Linked DNA regions of Homo sapiens: region 2 is linked to region 1. Evidence: fine-mapped expression QTL. A gene starts in region 1. The other region holds a variant in brackets. All regions are shown on one strand. Distances are between the middles of the regions.

What was found.
Region 2: its variant is fine-mapped to the expression of INTS13 in esophagus mucosa (GTEx, PIP 0.98).

Annotation. Positions count from the first base shown.
Region 1 is chr12:26,936,488-26,939,393 of GRCh38, reverse strand. It overlaps INTS13 (integrator complex subunit 13), which reads left to right and starts at 1,413. Exons shown (of 17, transcript NM_018164.3): 1 at 1,413-1,598; 2 at 2,580-2,815. The coding sequence starts at 2,591. FGFR1OP2 (FGFR1 oncogene partner 2) reads right to left here and starts at 924. Exons shown (of 7, transcript NM_015633.3): 1 at 684-924. RefSeq lists a silencer at 491-560 and enhancers at 90-598, 821-870, 599-1,108.
Region 2 is chr12:26,883,451-26,886,356 of GRCh38, reverse strand. No RefSeq gene overlaps it. Among named protein-coding and RNA genes, the nearest start is that of ITPR2, 52 kb to the right of the region's middle. RefSeq lists a silencer at 1,167-1,341. The variant C/T (reference allele first, on the strand shown) is at 1,518.

The sequences.
Region 1 (2,906 bases):
TTTGATGCTGTCAGCAATACGGTTACTAAAAAGTTTAAGGAAAGGACAGAGATAAATATGTATTTCAGAATAACTCTATGGAAGGATTATAGTAGGGAAACCAGTGGAGGGCGGGGGGCAGAGGGGGCAACCGCACTAATTCTGGCGAAAAAAAAAATAATACAGTGCAGTGTTAAGTGGAAATGAAGAACCAATGATGATTCCTGGTTTTCTAGTTCGGATAGCAGGACAGATACTGGAACCATTATCAGAGATGGGATAGAGAAGAAAGGCAGGAAGAGAACCAGAAAAGAGTAATACCCCTTGGAGAGCAGTTTCAAGAAACAAGTTATCTTCATTAAACGCTGCAAACAGGTGACTGAAAGGGTCCCCCGTCCGGTGGTGAACTCGCAGGTGGGTAAGGCAGGATGAAAGCAGATACGGAAGGTGTGTCCACAGGGTTAGAGCCAAGGCTTTTCATTGAACTTTCCGCACCGCATCTCCATTAAGAGGAGCTCGGAGTCGGGGGGCGCGGAGAGGAAGTCCGGCTCCCAGGAGCAGGGAGCCCGCGGCGGGAAGCGGACAGGGCCGGGCGCCGGTGGTTCAAGAGGCGCAAGGCACCGGCCCCGGCGAAGGACTGCCCCGGCAAAGGACGCCTCCGACTCGCCCACCCCTGCTCCCGTCCCTGGATTTAGTCCACTTACTCTGCTCTTAGTCCCTCGCAGCCTTCAGCTGTGGCGATGCGGACTCAAACCCTCTACCAACCGGGACCTATGCACTCAAGGGAAGAGACTCCGCGCCCCCCTAATCCGCCTCCTCAGCAAGCAGACGCAGAATCGGACGGAGGCAGCGGACGGAAGGCCGGGAAGCCAGTGGCGTTCAACGCCATCACCGGCGGGGTAGACACCTCCGCCGACCGCCTCCGACCGGCGCTCCCGGAGAACTCCAGCCTCGCGAGATTTCTTTCCTCGCGTTACTGTGGGGCAGAACCGACCACTCTCCGCTTTGCCCCAGAAGGCAGGGCGGGGCCCTTCTATGTCCCTCCCTATTCCTCCCTTCCCAGGCTTTCGCTCGGCCTCTCGCAAAGTCTCGCGAGTTTTTCCAGGGGAAACCGGCCTGGGTGGAGAGACAGAGAAGGGGAGACCGGGTGGGTGGGTCGTACGCTTAGGGGGCCGTGGTTGGTACTTCGCTGTTGGGGAGGCTTTCAGGTCGCCCAGATCCTGCTTCCCAATGGGTGACTGGGAAAATTAGCGGGTGGAAAATCTCGAGGGGTGGAGGCTTTTTTTTTCCTCCTTGGCCCCGCCCTCTTCCTGTTCGGCGACTGGGACGCCTGGCCCTACGAGGGGGAAGGGAGGCTTGGCCGGGCTATCGGAGAGCGCTGTGCGCACGCGCGAGCCCGAGTGCGTGTGTGTGTGTGCACGCGCACGCGCGCTCCTGCTCTTAGGAAGCCTGGGAAGGACCGGTGTGCTAGGAGATGATCGGGGAAAGCATAGTCCCCTGTCTGTGGCACCAGACACTCCCGACTGTGCGCTGACTCTCCCCGCCCAGCCAGCAGCCTTTTCCAGAGAGGCTGTGGTCCATAGCCTCTGTTCGTTTTCACTGCAGGACCAGGCACGAAAGTAAGCGAACCTCGATCCTGAGGTCTTCCCTATCCACTCACCTTGTATTTTCCACCCCCCACCCTCCAGCAAAGTGGGTCTAGAAGGTTTCTCAAAGAGAGTTTTGCATGAAGGGGAGATGCGTCTTGAAAGCAAGAGGTGAAAATAGCTGGATCGTAAGAAATCAGTTCGTTTTGATTTAACACTTTGGCTTTGCTTGCCATGTGCTTTTCGAATGTGGATTGTCTATTCAGTATAAGATTTTGTTAGCGAAGCAGGGGAGTACCGTATGCTCTGTTTTAATAAGAAAAAGTTTTAAAAGTTTTAAATTTCCTTCTACACACCAGTGTGATGGTAACAACTAAGTTTTTCTGCTCTACCTGGTAAATTACTGTGATGTTTCAAAAGCTAAGGGGAGAGTGTGAAGTTGGGGTCCTTATCCTAAGGCGAAGACCTGATGTGCGGTTATCTTAGGAGATGTTTATCTTTGTTTTGGCCTTTTCTTTTGCTGTCACTCCTCTTTCCTGTTAATTCCGCACCCCTACCCGCCAGTCCCCCTTCAAACGTTTTTCTTGGAGGGAAGTGCAAAAATGCTGGCTTGGGGTTTATATGTGACTAATGTCAATTAGCAAGGATCATAAAGTTGTATTTCAAGAGTCTTTGTCACTTATGTTTCGTATATGTAAGGGAATCAAATACAATTAAATGTCAAAATGTTTCCCTCTGACAATTTTAAGTTCATTTTAAAAGCAAAACCAAAAATGCATGCACTGGTATTTTTGTCTGGGCCTGGTAGAGTGACAGCCTAATATGGTGTATTGATACCCTTGCTTTCTGGTCATGACCTCATTAAACTGTCCTTTGTCGGACAGATTTCTTTGAACATATTATTCATGTTCCCTACCAAGTCTTCTTGAGGGAAAGACAATCTTCTTGAGAAAATTAGAAAAAATGTAAGATGTTATGTACAAATATTTGGCTAATATGTTTTTCCCCTTACAGGTTAAAACAAAATGAAGATTTTTTCTGAATCTCATAAAACAGTGTTTGTTGTGGATCACTGCCCTTATATGGCAGAATCTTGCAGGCAGCATGTCGAGTTTGATATGCTGGTGAAGAATAGAACCCAAGGAATCATTCCTTTGGCCCCCATATCTAAATCATTGTGGACTTGCTCAGTAGAATCTTCCATGGAATATTGTAGAATAATGTATGATATATTTCCTTTCAAAAAGCTGGTGAGTGTGAAGTACAAACAAAATCATGATTTTGGGGATGTACTTAACTGCATAAATGAATTTTTATATGAATTTGCTATAGATAATGACT
Region 2 (2,906 bases), 53 kb after region 1:
TTTGCATCAACTAATGGAGAGTTAAAATGAAAACCCCTACTACCTGCCAACATCACTGCTCTGTGGTGACTATGAAACGAGTAAGAGAAACCATAGATGCATTTTGACCTTGTGTCTGCCTTGCACTGCTCCTGTATCCAGCTCTACTTGGAGTTTAATATTGACTCTTAAGAGGACAAATTAATTAATGTAATAGTACATTGAAAATGTAAAACAAACAACAACAAACAAAAGCCTTCTCAGCATTGGCCTTATTCCCATTTTTCCTCTGTGACCCTGTGATAGACATTAGAGGTTTCTGCCTTTCAGAAGCTTTTTTTTTTTTTTTTTTGAGATGGAGTCTCACTTTGTTGCCCAGGCTGGAGTGCAGTGGTGTGATCTCGGCTCACTGCAACCACCGCCTCCCAGGTTCAAGCAATTCTCCTGTCTTAGCCTCCCGAGTAGCTGGGACTACAGGCACACGCCACCACGCCCAGCTAATTTTTGTATTTTTAGTAGAGATGGCATTTCACCATATTGGTCAGGCTGGTCTTGGACTCCTGACCTCAGGTGATCCACCTGCCTTGGCCTCCCAAAGTGCTGGGATTACAGGTGTGAGCCACCACACCTGGCCTAGAACCTTTTCATCTATGTTCCCTTTTCAGTAGTAACAGCCTTTCTTTGGGAAAATTTCCCTCTCCTACCTCATGATGAGCTGATAGCTGCCAATCAGTCACCCATCTCTTTGGTCAAAGGAGTAAGCAAATGATTCAGGCCTGCTCAATCATAATACTCAGCATCTCTTGCTAGGGGAAAAGACCCATTTGAGTAGGAGACCTGGGCTCAGCTCACCAGAGTCTTTTACTGTTTTCTGTGATTTTATATGGAGACGCTGGGGCACAAAATCTCTCACTTTCTCTCTGGTTGCTCTGATGTTGCCATGTTAACCTACACCATCACTACTACTATTACTACAATGATGACTATCACTACTGTCAGTACCTCTCTTTATTTCCTCTGTCCACTCTTTCCTAGCCCTCTCTCAGTCCACCAAGTCCAGCTTCGCTGATTTCTGTTACTTGCTCTGAAAAAGCTCAGCGATACACAGGTACCCTTGAAAATGTCGAATAACCACTTGTTTCAATTGTCAATTTATTTCCTCTTAGCTCCTGTATCCTCTATCAATAGGCTAAAAGCATTTGTCCCTCGTAGTGAGCACAATTTTCAGACTTGCCAGCAGAGGGCGATAAAGAGACACTGCGGGAGGAAAGAGGCGCTCTTGGTTTCAGCCCACGTTGTGTGAACCGGTATATCCAGTGGCACTCCGCTGCAGCCACTCCGCTCCCTTGGTGATTTGTATGCAGCCCAGCCCAGGCCTAGTGAACCACTTCATCATGACGCTCCTGACAAGGACACTGGCATGTTCCAGACCTCACGTTGGCAGTGACACCCCAACTCTCTCTGTGCACCTGCCCACCGGCCTTGGCTCATCTGTGCCCTGGAGGGCTGTTTCCTGCTGCCTGGTGGCTGTGGACCAG[C/T]TCTGGCGCAGGCAGCCCAGCTGACTTCTCTGCATAAAGTGGGCTGCATCCATACTTTCTCTAATGAAGTCTAAACCTCACCCGTGTGGGTGGACTTACCTCCAGGTTTTCCTTTCCTTGGGTACTCTCTTTCTCTCTTTTTTTCTTTCTTTTTTTTTTTTGAGACGGAGTCTTGCTCTGTCTCCCAGGCTAGAGTGCAGTGGCGCCATCTCGGCTCACTGCAAGCTCCGCCTCCCAGGTTCACGCCATTCTCCTGGCTCAGCCTCCCGAGTAGCTGGGACTACAGGCGCCCGCCACCACGCCCGGCTAATTTTTTGTATTTTTAGCAGAGACGGGGTTTCACCATGTTAGCCAGGATACTCTCGATGTCCTGACCTCGTGATCCGCCCGCCTTGGCCTCCCAAAGTGCTGGGATTACAGGCGTGAGCCACTGAGCCCGGCCTCCTTGGGTACTCTCTATTACCCCTAAGACACGCTTTCCAGTTTCTTTCCTTCCTTTCTTTCTCTCTTTCTCTCTCTCTCTCTTTCTTTCTTTCTCCCTTTCCCTTTTTCTCTTTCTCTTTCCCCTTCCTTCCCTCTCTCGTTCTTTCTTTCCTTCCTTCCTTCTTTCTTTCTTTCTTTCTTTCTTTCTTTCTTTCTTTCTTTCTTTCTTCTTTCTTTCTCTCTTTCTTTCTTCCTTTCTTCTCTTTCACCGGGTCTCACTCTGTCACCCAGGGTTGAATGCAGTGACTGTGATCATGGCTCACTGGAACCTCCACATCCCAGGCCCAAGAGATCCTCCCACCTCAGCCTCCTGAGTAGCTGGCCCAGGAGATCCCAGGCCCAAGAGATCCTCCGACCACAGCCTCTTGAGTAGCTGGGACCACAGCCACCACACTTGGCTAATTTTTTAATTTTTGTAGAGACAGGGTCTTGCCATGTTGCCCAGACTGGTCTTGAACTCCTGGGCTCAAGTGATTCTCCCACCTTGGCCTCCCAAAACGCTGGGATTATAGGTGTGAGCCACTATGCCCAGCCACCAGTCCTCTTTCCATCTTTTTTAGTTACTCCTCTGTCCTAGTTTAGCAATTTATATTCAACTTCTTCTGTTCAAATTACTGAGTGGTTTCTGTCTCCTGATTGGACCCAGACAGATTAACCCTTATTCTTACCATTTCTTGACTCCTAGTTTCTGTGACCAGCTTGATTTTTGTCTTACTTTTATATCATCATCATCATCATCATCATCATCATCATCATCATCATCATATCTCTGAAGTGTGCAAAATGGGAGAAACAATGCCTGTCTTACCCAATGCTGCATATATGGGAGAGTTTGTAAATTATAGGGTGATATTTTATGTTTGCTGTATATATTCCCGAACAACACTTCCTTATCTTTGCTGGATT